Homo sapiens: one gene and its partner. The protein of the gene in region 1 purifies or fractionates together with the protein of each later gene. This does not show direct contact. Each region holds a gene or a part of one and is shown in the gene's direction. Other genes may lie near its edges.

Region 1 (4,845 bases):
CCACGGGATCCACCCCCTCCTCCTCCATCAGCAGCAAGAGCAACAGCGAAGACCCATTCCCACAGCCCGAGAGGCAGAAGCAGCAGCAGCCGCTGGCCCTAACCCAGCAAGAGCAGCAGCAGCAGCCCCTGACCCTCCCACAGCAGCAACGATCTCAGCAGCAGCCCAGATGCAAGCAGAAGGTCATCTTTGGCAGCGGCACGGTCACCTTCTCACTGAGCTTTGATGAGCCTCAGAAGAACGCCATGGCCCACAGGAATTCTACGCACCAGAACTCCCTGGAGGCCCAGAAAAGCAGCGATACGCTGACCCGACACGAGCCATTACTCCCGCTGCAGTGCGGGGAAACGGACTTAGATCTGACCGTCCAGGAAACAGGTCTGCAAGGACCTGTGGGTGGAGACCAGCGGCCAGAGGTGGAGGACCCTGAAGAGTTGTCCCCAGCACTTGTAGTGTCCAGTTCACAGAGCTTTGTCATCAGTGGTGGAGGCAGCACTGTTACAGAAAACGTAGTGAATTCATAAAATGGAAGGAGAAGACTGGGCTAGGGAGAATGCAGAGAGGTTTCTTGGGGTCCCAGGGAAGAGGAATCGCCCCAGACTCCTTTCCTCTGAGGAAGAAGGGATAATAGACACATCAAATGCCCCGAATTTAGTCACACCATCTTAAATGACAGTGAATTGACCCATGTTCCCTTTAAAATTAAAAAAAAGAAGAGCCTTGTGTTTCTGTGGTTGCATTTGTCAAAGCATTGAGATCTCCACGGTCAGATTTGCTGTTCACCCACATCTAATGTCTCTTCCTCTGTTCTATCCCACCCAACAGCTCAGAGATGAAACTATGGCTTTAAACTACCCTCCAGAGTGTGCAGACTGATGGGACATCAAATTTGCCACCACTAGAGCTGAGAGTCTGAAAGACAGAATGTCACCAGTCCTGCCCAATGCCTTGACAACAGACTGAATTTTAAATGTTCACAACATAAGGAGAATGTATCTCCTCCTATTTATGAAAACCATATGATATTTTGTCTCCTACCTGCTGCTGCTATTATGTAACATCCAGAAGGTTTGCACCCCTCCTATACCATATGTCTGCTTCTGTCCAGGACATGATACTGATGCCATGTTTAGATTCCAGGATCACAAGAATCACCTCAAATTGTTAGGAAGGGACTGCATAAACCAATGAGCTGTATCTGTAATTAATATTCCTATATGTAGCTTTATCCTTAGGAAAATGCTTCTGTTGTAATAGTCCATGGACAATATAAACTGAAAAATGTCAGTCTGGTTTATATAAGGCAGTATTATTGAGCTCTATTTCCCCACCCCACTATCCTCACTCCCATAAGCTAAGCCTTATGTGAGCCCCTTCAGGGACTCAAGGGTCCAGAAGTCCCTCCCATCTCTACCCCAAAGAATTCCTGAAGCCAGATCCACCCTATCCCTGTACAGAGTAAGTTCTCAATTATTGGCCTGCTAATAGCTGCTAGGGTAGGAAAGCGTGGTTCCAAGAAAGATCCACCCTCAAATGTCAGAGCTATGTTCCCTCCAGCAGTGGTATTAATACTGCCGGTCACCCAGGCTCTGGAGCCAGAGAGACAGACCGGGGTTCAAGCCATGGCTTCGTCATTTGCAAGCTGAGTGACTGTAGGCAGGGAACCTTAACCTCTCTAAGCCACAGCTTCTTCATCTTTAAAATAAGGATAATAATCATTCTTTCCCCTCAGAGCTCTTATGTGGATTAAACGAGATAATGTATATAAAGTACTTTAGCCTGGTACCTAGCACACAATAAGCATTCAATAAATATTAGTTAATATTATTACTGATACTGTAATAATTATTTTTTCCCTTACTTCAAATACAAAACAAAACATACATATTAACCATTCAGATTGTACTGCCTAGCCCACTGATCACAATCACTCTCTCTGTAATAAGCCCAAGAGCTCTGGGCCCAACACATGGGGTCAGCCATAGTATCACTGGCTCATGGTGAGGAAGCCAGAAAGCTGGTCAGCCCCTCAGGTGGCCCAATGCCCTGTCTCCGCAGTGTCAGGGCCTGGACCTCCAGCATCCAGGGAAGACCATCACCAGTCTAGCAGGAGGTTCTAAGCTGAGGCCAAACCATTGCAATTAAATCTCCTGAAGCCTCAAATTTTACAGCTCTTGGTGACTTCTTCCCCTGACCACTTTCTTCCAAAGGGGCGCCTTTCAGTGATTTGTAGGGCAAATTGGTGGACTTGATAGTTGTTAAGATTATAATGAGAAATCATTAGAGGGCACCATGTGGGAGCGCGACTGTGAGCAGAAGGTGGTGACTCAGGATGACCCAAGTGAGGTGCCTGCTCCCCACCTAGGAAGGGCACCGGCCCCCACCCAGCCTGCGCCCCCCTGCAGTCATGCCTCTGAGCAAGGCACCGAGCTGAGTGGGGATTTATATTTAACATTTTACTTGGTCTTAAAAGAAATGCTGAAAATGTGATGGTTTCAAAATAACTATGAGGGAACAGCCTCAACAGAATGTGACATACTTCTCCCTCCAGGGTTTGACTTCAATGTCCATGTCACCCAAGGGGCTTTAGGAGGAAAACATAGGTTTACAGTGAGCTTTTATTTCACCAAGTGCTTGCAAATAAGGAGTCTCTCCCAATGCTGTTGTCAGAAAGGCAGATACAGAAACACTGTCCCAATTTATACGTAGCAGGCACAACTCAGCACAAAATCAGGGGTGTGAAATATGAACTTGCATTGTTTTTCTACAACAACTTAATTTCTATCTCAAATTCCCCTCCAGCCTAGTGACAGAAACTTCATCTTAGTCGAATCGGGGTTTTCACAGTAACCTCAGTGTTTTCTGAGCCAATTTAGATGTTTGGGGATCAATTCAGAGGTTGTTCCTTCTCCCTTCCAGGAGGGCTTTTGTAATGTTGGGGTGGGCCTCCTCAGTCATCAGCAGCTCCCTCATGACATTGCTGAAAGCAATCTTATCTGGCCTTCGCTGGCGTGCTCTGAGGCATTGTATCCTCATCTGGTCCCATCATGGGTTTCGTGGTGGTTTTCACGCATGCCTCACTGTCCTAACCAGTCGGTCCCTGTGGGGCCTGCTAGCTCTTGCAGCTACCTCCATGCTCATCCCTGAGGCCCAGAAATCACTGGCAGCCTCACTTTCATGTCTACTTGACTGCTGTCTCCCCATGACAGTACACAGAGCTTATGGAGGCTAACAAAGCTTCCAGGGTACCAGAGAAGAAACAGGGTACATGTCTCCAAACCTGAATAGACTTCGTAGTGGGCAAATAATGGTCACCCAAAGATGCCCACATCCTCATCTCTAGAACCTATGGCTATGTTGTTACATGGCAAGGGTGAATTAAAGTATAGTGGAATTAAGATTGCTAATCAGCTGACCTTGAGATAGGAAGAGCGTCCCAAATTATCCAGGTGGGTCCAGTGGAATCCCAAGGGCCCTTAAATGTGGACGAAGCAGAAGAGTCAGTGTGAGAGCAATACAGTATGAGAAAAACACCACTGGCCTGTACTGCCTTTGCGTAGGGAAGTGGACATGAGCTGAGGAAGGCAGGCTGCTTCTAGAAGCTGGCAAATGCCAGAAAACCGATTCTCCCCTAAAACATCCAGAAAGGAATGCAGCCCTGCCAACATCTTGATTTTAGCCCAGTGACACCCTTGTAGGACTTTGGACCTCCAGATCTGTAAGATAATACATTTGTGTTGTTTTAAGCCATGAAGTTTATAGTAATTTGTTTCAGCAGCAACAGAAAACAAATACATTTGTATTGTTATCTCCTTCCCTGAGTTTTGGCAGCCAGAGCCTGTCTCAGAGATCTATTCCTGTTCTCACTGTGGTCCTCTTCCCTTCACCTAGCTCACTCCTTCCCCTCTAATATTCTATTCCTCTACATCTGCTTGGGAAAGTATAAACCTCATATTCTAAGTCTTTGCTGGCTTTGGTTATAGAAAATACACAGCCGTGTTGTCTCATTCTATTATCTGTCAGTAGCAGAAACCTGAAATTGGTAGCTTCAACAAACTAGTGTTTGCTTTTCTCTTGAATAAAGGAAGTCAGGAGGTAAATATATGATCACCTTTTAATTACTTTTTAAAATATTTCTTAGGTTTTGTTAACAATGGGAAACTGCTTACATTTCTTTTGAAAATTAAAATGAATTATAAAGTTAAAAAGATTTTCACTCAAATGAAAGTGTCCTAGAAGATTTTAAGAATTTAGGTTGGAAATTTAGAGGTGACGATCAGCATATAACATCAATACCCTGAAAGTCCCTATGATCGTCACACGTTGTCTAATTGCATTAATTTTGATTTTGGGGAAGTTGGGGCTACCCTACCTCTGTCTCCAAAAGGCACATTTCAAGGCAATGTTGTCTGTCGTTTTGCTCTGGCTGAAATCACATAGCTACGGGCTGGTTCTGCCCAGCCAGAGCTTCCCTTTGCTCATCTGCTGCATTTGAAATAATTATTGCTACAAGAATAATGGAACATCAATAAGGGGTGCTAATCACCGGAGGAGGTGGCCCTCATTTGTCTGAGCCTGAGTGGTCATTTTAGGAGTCCACTGGAGACAAGAATACTCCCAAAGGTGGGTGGAATTAGGGTAGGTGGGAGGAAGTTGCCACAGTGAGATCACAGCCTCTGGGAGATGCTGGTTTTCCTGGCCCAGATCATGGAAAAAAAACATCAAGACTTGGATGACAACTTTGAGTGACTTTGCTATTATGCAAGGAGTGAGGCAGGGGTCAGGGAAACAACAAGCACAGGGTAGAACCTGTCACAGGAATAAAGGTGCATTCCAAGGATCCAA
Region 2 (4,845 bases), on another chromosome or scaffold:
TTAATTTAAAAAAAAAAAAAAGTGTAGTGAACTTGGCTTCTCGCAGACTCGTAGAAAGTTAAAAAGGAAGCTACCATCTAAATGGTTTTATTATTATTCCAGATATTTTGGTATTGTTTTCTGTATCATGATAGTCTAAAAAACTAGTTTTACTTTTAATATTAATTGGTATAATAATTAGTTGTTTTTTTTCCCCAGTCACTGAAGATGTGTGCTTAGTTACATAAAGTACATTAATATTTGTGTTTATAAAATAATACAATATTTATAGTATAATGTTTATATATGTGTTTAAATTGTGACAGCACTGCATCCACTTGAGGCTCTTTTTTATAGCTACTAGGAGGTTTAGGCACTTGGAGTTAAATTTTAAATGAACCACATATTTTTCATTTTTGTTAATGTAGTTTTCCCATTTTATGCAAATAAAATATTTAATTGGCTCTCCACTCCTGCCTCTGTCCCCTTACCGCTACCACCCTAAGAGATTATCATTGTTAACATTTGAGGACATGGTGTTTTGTAACCTGTTGTTTTTTCTTAATATGACAATGGCCCATATTTTAGCAGTAAACAAAAAGATACAGAAGATGAAAGCTTAGCCAAACACTGTAAATAGAAATGGGAAGCTTTTTCATATCGGGGAACGGTGGCTTAATTGATTCTTGGGGAATGGGGGATCAACTAACCATAAACAATTTCATTTAGGATTTTTGCATCATGAGGGTATTTGGAGAGAAATATATCATCCTATAATGTGCACAGTAAGTTTTTCCTAATTTGTTGCTTTGAGGAAAGACACAAAGCAAACTAAACAGCCTTTCATAGATAAATAAGTATACAGAGAGTGAAAGATATGGGTACAAGTATATAGAGACCTATCAAAAATACATTGCTTGTGGTATTAATTCTCATGTGTGATTTTAGCATATTAAAAGGCTGTTTTGTGTTTTTAGAACCATAAGAATAAATGGGGATGTTACCTTTCAGTTTGTTCCAAAGATTGCATGCATCATTACCAAAGCTTGAGTCTTTTTACTCCCCTGTCTTGTTGAGATACCTACTACTTGAGCATACTCTGGAATGAGAAAGTTTATCGATTAACATGCTGCTTACGCAGATAGGATTAGCATTTCCTTAATTTAGTATACCACGTGTTGTATCAGGCATAAAAGCCAGCTTTTTTTAGTCATACCCCAATGTTTAAAATTGTTAAATGCAGACTTCATGTTCTTTTGATCATTTAAATCATGACATGGATATTTTTAATTTTTATATTCTAGTAATTATCAATTGTCCTGGTCTGGCTGCTTAGAGTATCAGTTTGCTCAAAATTGCTTGAATCATTAAAGCAAATACTAATTGTGAGCATTGACCAGATCTTAAGTTAAAAAAAAAAAAAAAGCATCTTTGGTCCTAGAAGAAGTGCTAAGGAAACCTGAATTAACTGATAAAGCACAGGTAAAGTTTGACCATAAAACTTGTAGAAAGAATGGAATATAGCTTAATGCTTATAATGTAAGACATTGGAACAAATACTTAAATTCAGTGGTTAGCACTATAAATATCTTTTCTTAACTGTGAGTAGTTGGAAAATATAGCTGGCTAATAGTAATTACAAGTTACTATTTAAACAGATGCCAACATGCAAAGTAGTTGTATAATTTTCCTAAAGTTATGTTACACTTGATTTTAACTTGACGCCATTGTGCATTGTAACCATATTATTATACAAGGAGCATAGACCAACAACAGTTGAGTAAATGGGTGAATAAATGAATAAAAAGGATAAACACAACTAATTTAAAAGTCATGAGCATAACTAACAATGATTGCTTTTATTCTGAAACTGTTTTCCATGGTTTATAACGTTCATAGCCATATGACCCTTCCTTAATCTCTTCCTTCCTTCCTTGTATTTTGGGTACTGATTCTTTGCAAGGTCCATCTCTCTTTTGTGTGAAGTAAAATACTGGGAAAAGGCTGCTTTTCTAAAGATACCTGTTTTGCTATTTTTATAGTGCTTATAACTGATGTAATTAGAAGAAATAAATTCATAGTGCTTTGGATATAGCACCTCAGATTAATATCAAATTGTCACCTCCTGTTAGTGTTCATTCACTAAAGGAATAGTGTACAGAACGTGTACATTTGAATTAAGGGAAGATGGTTAGAAAAGTTCTGGAACCGGGAACTACCATTCAGAAGACTTCTATGGGACCAGGACAAAGACAAACTTTACGTAGTTCACAATTTGCCTAGAGCTGTCCTTGATTCTCCTTTCTCTTTTTATTCTTTTTTTATTCTTTGTTCTCATTGTTTTACTACTATGTTTTAAAAATGTTTATAACTTGATATTTTAATGTAAAGTATGTTTTCTTAGAAGGGAAGAAAAAATGCTTTATATACTAAAAACAGCAGGCTGAAGCTATAAGTTAACAAACTACATCTTAAGATTTTTTGACAGTGCTACAATTGGTAAACTGCTAGAAGTTATTTTTAGACCAGTTTTATGTACTTAATAGATTTCTCTGTGTTCCCAATAGCTGATGATATAAAGCCATGTCCACGATGTGCTGCTTATATAATAAAGATGAATGATGGGAGCTGCAATCACATGACATGTGCTGTTTGTGGTTGTGAGTTTTGTTGGTTGTGTATGAAAGAAATCTCAGATTTGCATTATCTAAGGTAAGCTTATAGAAGGAGCTATTTATATGTAAATGTAATTTTATATTGTAAGACAAAATAACTTGTCTTAAATTTGGGTTTTATAAGATACTTAAAGGGATTGGTTTTATTCTAGTTAAATAAATTTAAAAGAAACCAAGTTATTATGCTAGTCATTTGGAATTAATAACTAGTCAAAATAGGAAATGGATATTTCCTTTTTTTGTTTTTGTTAAACTAGAATGCTAGTAAGTATGTAATACCCTGTGTAATTATGCTAGACCCATAAATACTTTCATTTAATTTTCCCATACATAAATTTTATCATTTAGGCACAGAGTGAGTTTATGATATAATCAGATAATTGATGCCTAAAAATATGCATGTTTTGCATTAGTTTACTATTAAAAAACTGACTTAAGGGTTTGAGGATAATGGAGGACTAGGGATAAATTTTTAACCTGAATCTCAGTTATCAGTATCTTGTTAATATAATTTACAGTGGTTCTTACCTTATACTTCATTGAATTTTCCCATACATAAATTTTATCGTTTAGGCTACAGAGTGAGTTTGTGATATAATCAGATAATTGATGCCTAAAAATATGCATGTTTTGCATTAATTTACTATTAAACTGACTTAAGGGTATGAGGGTAATGGAAGACTAGGGATAAATTTTTAACCTGAATTTCAGTTATCAGTATCTTGTTAATATAATATAGATTAAATAATAAAATATAATATAAAATAAGATATATCAATATCTTGTTAATATAATTTATAGTGGTTCTTACCTTAGTTTAATGAACTCAGAATTTAAAGGGGAAAAAAGCTCCTAACTATGAGAAGTTTTTAAAAATAGTCATTGTTTTAATATAGTGCACTAATTTGTTATTGTGGTGTTTTGCAGCAGTTATTTACATTATAATTTTTTCCGTTAGTCCATCAGGATGTACTTTTTGGGGGAAGAAACCCTGGAGCCGAAAGAAGAAAATATTGTGGCAACTGGGAACACTGGTTGGTGCTCCTGTCGGAATCGCTTTAATAGCTGGCATTGCTATTCCTGCAATGATTATTGGCATTCCTGTGTATGTGGGCCGCAAGGTAAAATGCATACTTCTTGTTAGTCCATTATCTTATTCTAAATCTTTAGGTGTATTCTTTTAGTATTGATGATTTTTGGGTTTTTTTTTTTTTTTTTTTTTAGACAAAGGGTATCTTTAGTTTCTTCAGTATAAAACAGTTACTCTTTTTTCATAAATTTTTAGTGTTTGGCAAGCATATATAAATACGTATAAAGCAGACTTGCTTTAAAATGTTCTGAATCTGAAAATTTTAGTATGTTTGTATTATAAAACTTTGAGTATAAAATATTGAAGGATACACACCTGAGATTTTTCTCATAGGTATATCCTTGTAAGGTCAGGTCTATGAGATCTTTTTAATGAAAGTTAATAGCTAAATAACACATGCCCTCAGGCAAAGAATAATTAGCCAGTTCTTGAATTATTTCTGCTGTAGTTCAAAGCTTTTTTTTTGGATTACTGCTTTTAATAAATACACTATTTTGCAAATTATAACAATCTTGTGAAAGTCCAAACACCAGTGACTACCACTGGCCTCTAATTGATGAATTATATTTCATTAGCTAAGCAAATAGTTCTTTTGTTAAGGGTTAATGGGATAATTTATGAGGTCCTAAGAAGTCTGTTGTTGCCTAAATTAATAGAATCTCTGGATTGAGAAGTAACTTTCAGTAGAATATAGCTAAAAGAAAAAAAAAAGAAATTTTCTTTGGTATCCAAGAAGATCAAAAAAATTAAAACTTTTTTTAAAAAATAAAAAGAAATTAATCCCAACCTTGTACCCAAGCAGAACAAAGGATAGCAATTTTCAAAAAGGGAACTAACAGGCCAGGTGCGGTGCCTCACCCCTGTAATCTTAGCACTTTGGAAGGCTGAGGCTGGTGGATCATCTGAGGTCAGGAGTTCAAGACCAGCCTGGCCAACATGGTGAAACCCCATCTCTACTAAAAATACAGAAAAAATTAGCCAGGCATGGTGGCAGGTGCCTGTAATCCCAGACTCGGGAGGCTGAAGCAGGAGAATCACTTGAACCTGGGAGGTGGAGGTTGCGGTGAGCTGAGATTGCACCATTGCACTCCATCCTAGGCA

Evidence for each region. The genes of interacting proteins can lie anywhere in the genome.
Region 2: the proteins of CASR (region 1) and RNF19A purify together in Homo sapiens (affinity purification with western blotting, with the first as the bait; one study listed by BioGRID). This does not show direct contact.

The regions. Positions count from the first base shown.
Region 1 is NC_000003.12:122,284,668-122,289,512, forward strand, and holds part of CASR (extracellular calcium-sensing receptor isoform 2 precursor), read left to right. Parts: coding exon 1-524; 3' UTR 525-4,845. UniProt on the Homo sapiens protein: G-protein-coupled receptor that senses changes in the extracellular concentration of calcium ions and plays a key role in maintaining calcium homeostasis.
Region 2 is NC_000008.11:100,267,715-100,272,559, reverse strand, and holds part of RNF19A (E3 ubiquitin-protein ligase RNF19A), read left to right. Parts: intron 1-2,546; coding exon 2,547-2,691; intron 2,692-3,612; coding exon 3,613-3,775; intron 3,776-4,845. UniProt on the Homo sapiens protein: E3 ubiquitin-protein ligase which accepts ubiquitin from E2 ubiquitin-conjugating enzymes UBE2L3 and UBE2L6 in the form of a thioester and then directly transfers the ubiquitin to targeted substrates, such as SNCAIP or CASR.